Linked DNA regions of Homo sapiens: region 2 is linked to region 1. The links come from fine-mapping of genetic effects on gene expression. A gene starts in region 1. The other region holds a variant in brackets. All regions are shown on one strand. Distances are between the middles of the regions.

Region 1 (2,892 bases):
CATCCGGCTAATTTTTTTGTATTTTTAGTAGAGACGGGGTTTCACCATGTTAGCCAGGATGGTCTCGCTCTCCTGAGCTTGTGATCCGCCTGCCTCGGTCTCCCAAAGTGCTGGGATTACAGGCGTGAGCCACTGCGCCCAGCCTTTATTTTATTTTATTTTATTTTTGAGACAAAGTCTCACTCTGTTGCCCAGGCTGGAGTACAGTGGTGTGATCTCGGCTCACCACAACCTCCACCTCCCTGGTTCAAGTGATTCTCCTGCCTCAGCCTCCCAAGTAGCTGGAATTACAGGTGCCGGGCAACAAGCCCAGCTAATTTTTTGTGTTTTTAGTAGAGATGGCGTTTTATCATGTTGGCCAGGCTGGTCTTGAACTACTGACCTCATGATCCACCCGCCTCAGCCTCCCAAAGTGCTGGGATTACAGGCGTGAGCCACCGCACCCGGCCGTTTTTTTGTTTTTGTTTGTTTTTGTTTTTTTGTTTTTTTTGTTTTTTTTTGAGACAGGTTCTTGCTCTGTCACCCAGGCTGGAGTACAGTGGTACAATCACAGCTCACAGCAGTCTTCATCTCCTGGGCTCAGGCAATCCTCCCACCTCAGCCTCCCTAGTAGCTGGGACTGCAGCTGTGCACCACCATGCCTGGCTAATTTTTGTATTTTTTTGTAGAGACAAGGTCTCGCTACGTTACCCAAGCTGGTCTCGAACTGCTGGGCTCAAGCAATCCTCCTGCCACAGCCTCCCAAAGTCCTGGAATTACAGGCGTGAGCCACGGCACCCAGCCTTTTTTCCCCCCTCATATATAATTATTTCTCACAACCAATGTTTCTTCTTAGGGGAAATAGCCCTGAGACTGGGGCTGTACCTTACACAGCTCTGGGTGCTGATACGCACCCCATGTCAAGCGGGAAAGATACCTGGGCACATGCTCCGAGGTGTAGGGTACAAGGACCACCTTCTTCCCCAGCAGCAAGGTGTTCTGATTCAACCTCATGGTAGCAGCCTGCATGCAGATGGGGAGAGCAAAGACTTCAGGACCCTGAATTTCCTCCAACTTTGGGTAGGCGCTCCAGCTTTCCTGCTGGGGCTAAGTTGACTTCCGTCATTAGTTCCGTCTAGACACTTCAAAGAATACAGACTCCAAAATTCTTGCAAGAAAGAGAACCAGGCTGGTTAAGGATAATTAAACAATCCTTGACTCCCACTCCAAGAGGCCAAGCCTGGGCTCCGTTTCTGCCGGTTCCTTCCGTCCACTCCCCAGAACTTCGATTCCTCAAACCCAAGCACCAAGTACCAAGTACCAAAGTATCCCCAGAGCTCCCATTACTTGCCCCAGTCCAGGGATTCCAACCCAGAATCAACTTTCAGCCCTGCCTTAAACCTACTTCCAACCTCTTACCCCGGCGACCACCCCACGGGGCTCTAGCCACTCCCTCCCCGCCCCCGACCACTTCAGGGCAAGGCGGGCTTAGTCTTAGGCCCTCCCCTTTGAGTGGCGTTCTAGACCACTCTCTTCGACCCTCCAACCACGCGGACCCGGGTACTGCCAAGCTCACACCCACCTACCACCGACGAAATCGTCCCCCGCAGAAAGGGTGATCTACCTCCTCCAACCAGCCACGTTCCCAGGCCCGGCCGGCTACCGCCCCTTCCGCATGCGCGTGAGAACGCGCCCCGCCCACTTCCGCCATGCTGACGGCAGCCGCCAGGCCCCAATCCCGGTCCCGCCCCCGCGAGGCGCCCAATCAGCGCGCGCGAAAAAGGTGGGCTGTGGGGCCGGCGCATGCGCGCTGCGGAAGCTGGTGCTGGACAGCTGGCGCCGGCAGCAGCGGACCGGCGGGAGACGGCGGCTTGGGAGCTGGCTGTGCTGCAGGTGTTGGGTCGGGTCGGGTCGGGACGGGCGGGAGAGGACGAGACGGGTCGGGATAGGTTGGGGCGGGGCGGGGCGGCACTAGACTCGGGACTCCTCCAGGAGGGAGAGAGAGGGAGAGGCTGGGAGTGGGGTTCTTGAGAAAAGAGGGAGCTTTGAGGGTGGGGAACCCTAAGAGAGTAGGTGGGGCCAGGGAGTGGAGGCCCCATTAAAAAAAGGAGGCCTTAGTGCCAAGAGTGGAGTTGGAAGGGCAATGTAGGAAAGCCCCCAGCTCCCTGCCCTAGGCAGAGGCGGCAGACAGTTCCTTGGGCTCCCATGTGTGGTAGTGAGCTCCTGGTTCCTGGAACTAAACGAGGATAACCACCCCAGAGCGTGGAAAGGGGGCTCTTGTGGTGGGTGAGACTTAGTGGTTTTAGAGGCCCCTTAAATCACTTGCACCCCGAGCAGCATTGAAAACATCCGTGCTGGGCACAGAGCAGTGCCCTGCACAGCAAGGGAAATGTTAGAAGAAACCGTCCAGATTTCTGTCATCCAGGGTGACCCCTCCCTCGGGGGTGAGTCTTGTGACAGATACTGAGGCCCTAAGTGTCTGTGATAAAAGAACCAGAGGTGGCAGGGGAAGTCTGCAAGCCTCCTCCCACCCCTGTCTCAGTCCATCAGATAGGTGAAGCCTGCTCTTTTGTTTTAAGGAGCTGCGGCAGCCGCCGTCCTTGCACCTAAGGAACCTCTGCTGCCAGCCCTTCCTCACTTTTGGAAATGGCGGGTGAAATTACAGAGACCGGGGAACTCTACTCTTCCTACGTGAGTGTGACTTATAGAACCTTTTGCTCACTTAAGTGTTCCTGGCTTCTAGAAAAGCACATTGCTTGCTGGAGATGGGACTAGTGAGTGCTGCTGCTTGAGCAGACCATAGTGGAAGCAGGATGGGGGAGTTCCATGGGGCAGCGACTACAGTGCTGCTGTGGTGGCTCAGAATGTAAGTCAGATTTATTCTCTTTTTAAGGTGTTTGTCAGAGTGGTCAA
Region 2 (2,892 bases), 28 kb before region 1:
CCAATGCAATATGAGTAAAACAAAGTCATGTGGGTATGTCTGGGGTAGAGAGAGGGGTAGCAAGTTCATGTGTCCTCCTTGGTCACATATCTCCCAAAGCTCCGATCCCTGCCATGGGAAGTGGACAGGAAACATGAGGTCATGACCTGCAGGCATCTTTACTGCAGCTCTGCCGGCCTGGAGGGGGAGAGGGGGAGGAAGAAGTATGCGCTGCACATTTCTGAGGCTACTGCATTTGCTTTCAAGGCAGAAATCTTGCTCTGAGCAGTCAGCGGCTCCAGTTTGGGCCCGATAAGGAAGTTCTCCGTGGCCTCCCTCAGGCAGAGCAGGGAGGAGGCTGACATTGCCAGTCTCTTCTGGGGCCCAAGGCAGGTTGCAGGAGATCCAATCCCATAGACAGCTCTGGGCCTCTTGCATTTGAGTTTTTCAGAATTAAACTGCAGTATTTTGGAAAGCACATCCTGTCCACTGTTTCTTTGAAGTGAGTGGGGGGGGGGGGTCTTGTTGAAGGAATTGTCATTCACTGCCAAAATCATTCCATCCTCCTTCCTCAGTGTCTGTCCTCAGATGGTCAGCTCCCCGCTCAACAGACTGTCTCCCGCCTCTGTGACCAGCCTCTCTTTGGCAAGAGGGAGCTAGAAGGCTTTACAGTCCTAATCATTTTTCTGTTGGAAAAAAAAAAAAAAAACCAAGGCTCCTTTCCCTGTGGCGTGTACCCAGAGGTTGATTACCTGAGTCTGTCCTGCCTCTCCCCACCCCACCTCCCTAGCCAAACGCTGCTGCCAAAGCCCACGCTATTGCCCTAGATGGCCTGTCTTCAGCGGGCTGCCCCTCGAGGTCCCAGGCTCTCCGCGGAGCCCTCACCTTCCCAGCAGGGATCAGAACCTGCACTCCTCTATGCGAGTCCTGGGACAGCACAAAGTGGATTAGGGTTAGGGTTCCCACAAACGGAAAAATGTTATTCAAACAACTCTGTAGGGTCCGAGGAGGCCCTCCGTCTTAATTCTCGAGACTGACCGGCCCTCGCTGCCCCGAGCGGGAGCAGTTGCCCCGGCAACAGCCGCTCCCTCTCAACTGGAGCTGCACCCAGGCTTTGGCTAAAGGCTGTTAAAACGTTGGCCAGGTGCGGTGGCTCACGTCTGTAATCCCAGGGCGGATCACCTGAGGTCAGGAGTTTGAAACCATCCTGGCCAACATGGCGAAATTTCGTCTCTACTAAAAATACAAAAATTAGCGGGGCGTGGTGGTGCGCGCCTGTAACCCCAGCTGCTCGGGAGGCTGAGGCAGGGGAATCGCTTGAACCCGGGAGGCGGAGGTTGCAGTGATCCGAGATCGCGCCACGGCAGTCCAGCCTGGGCGACAGAGCGAGACTCCGTCTCAAAAAAAAAAAAAAAAGTTAGGGTCCTTTACCCGAGGGCCGGCTTTCCTCACTCCCCGCCACAGGTAGGGGAAACCAGGCCGGAGCCGGCGGGCCCACCCGCCCAGAACCGGGAATTCGGCGAGCCCCGCCCCTGCCACCCCAGCGCCGGCCGCTCGGTAACAAACACTTCCACTTCCTGAGCGCTAGTCTTCGCCCGCCGCGGGGCGCCGCGCCGAGCGCAGGCCCCGCCCCGCGCGTTCCCAATGGCCGGCGCCGTTCACCCGGCCGGAGCGCCCAGGCCTGCAGCCCCCTATTGGCCCGCGGAGGTCCCCACCCTCAGCGCGGCCCCGCCCCCGGGGTAAGGAGCCGGGGCGGACTCTGGGACGCTCAGACGCCGCGCGGGGCGGGGATTGGTCTGTG[G/C]TCCTCTCTCGGCTCCTCGCGGCTCGCGGCGGCCGACGGTTCCTGGGACACCTGCTTGCTTGGCCCGTCCGGCGGCTCAGGGCTTCTCTGCTGCGCTCCCGGTTCGCTGGACGGGAAGAAGGGCTGGGCCGTCCCGTCCCGTCCCCATCGGAACCCCAAGTCGCGCCGCTGACCCGTCGCAGGGCGAGATGAGCGCGGACGCAGCGGCCGGGGCGCCCCTGCCCCGGCTCTGCTGCCTGGAGAAGGGTCCGAACGGCTACGGCTTCCACCTGCACGGGGAGAAGGGCAAGTTGGGCCAGTACATCCGGCTGGTGGAGCCCGGCTCGCCGGCCGAGAAGGCGGGGCTGCTGGCGGGGGACCGGCTGGTGGAGGTGAACGGCGAAAACGTGGAGAAGGAGACCCACCAGCAGGTGGTGAGCCGCATCCGCGCCGCACTCAACGCCGTGCGCCTGCTGGTGGTCGACCCCGAGACGGACGAGCAGCTGCAGAAGCTCGGCGTCCAGGTCCGAGAGGAGCTGCTGCGCGCCCAGGAAGCGCCGGGGCAGGCCGAGCCGCCGGCCGCCGCCGAGGTGCAGGGGGCTGGCAACGAAAATGAGCCTCGCGAGGCCGACAAGAGCCACCCGGAGCAGGTAAGCGGGGCCCAAGCCGCGCAGGCTGGCATGGAGTGGGAGGAGGATCCGGAGAGACCCAGGTGCCCCGGCCGTCCAGCCCCGCGCCCGCCGTCGTTTTTCTGAAACTCGAGCTGCGAGGGGGAGACCGCTTCCGCCCGCCGACCAGGCGCCCTGACACATCCTAGGCAGGCCTGGGGCTGCGTCCCGCGACCTCCTCTCCTTCCCAGGCTGTGCTGGGAGCTTGAGCGCCTTTGCCGCCTGCACCTCTTGTTCCCTGGCCTTTGGGAGGGCGGCGCAGGGGAACCCAGCCCCCTTCCCTCGGGTCTGTGGGTGTCTGCTCCCGTTCCTCGGAATCCCCCAATCCTGCTCCTTCCCTGGTGCCCTCTCCTCGTTCACCCCAGTCCGCAGATGGGCCGGGGAGAAAGGGCTCTCCGCCCCAGAGGTGCCAGCTTCGCCCGCCACTCCTACTTCAAAAGCTAGAGGAATAGCATTACTCCTCCT

What was found.
Region 2: its variant is fine-mapped to the expression of NAT9 in whole blood (INTERVAL, PIP 0.95).

What each region holds. Positions count from the first base shown.
Region 1 is chr17:74,774,706-74,777,597 of GRCh38, forward strand. NAT9 (N-acetyltransferase 9) reads right to left here and starts at 1,640. Exons shown (of 7, transcript NM_015654.5): 1 at 1,562-1,640; 2 at 917-1,002. The coding sequence starts at 993. SLC38A12 (solute carrier family 38 member 12) reads left to right here and starts at 1,794. Exons shown (of 10, transcript NM_017728.4): 1 at 1,794-1,872; 2 at 2,559-2,670. The coding sequence starts at 2,626. RefSeq lists an enhancer at 1,322-1,441.
Region 2 is chr17:74,746,879-74,749,770 of GRCh38, forward strand. It overlaps RAB37 (RAB37, member RAS oncogene family), which reads left to right. Exons shown (of 9, transcript NM_001006638.3): 9 at 1-457. NHERF1 (NHERF family PDZ scaffold protein 1) reads left to right here and starts at 1,750. Exons shown (of 6, transcript NM_004252.5): 1 at 1,750-2,409. The coding sequence starts at 1,969. It overlaps SLC9A3R1-AS1 (SLC9A3R1 antisense RNA 1), which reads right to left. Exons shown (of 3, transcript NR_187307.1): 1 at 2,185-2,892; 2 at 1,695-2,049; 3 at 1-665. MIR3615 (microRNA 3615) reads left to right here and starts at 1,735; the gene lies at 1,735-1,821. RefSeq lists enhancers at 304-899, 2,188-2,813 and a silencer at 1,294-1,983. The variant G/C (reference allele first, on the strand shown) is at 1,781.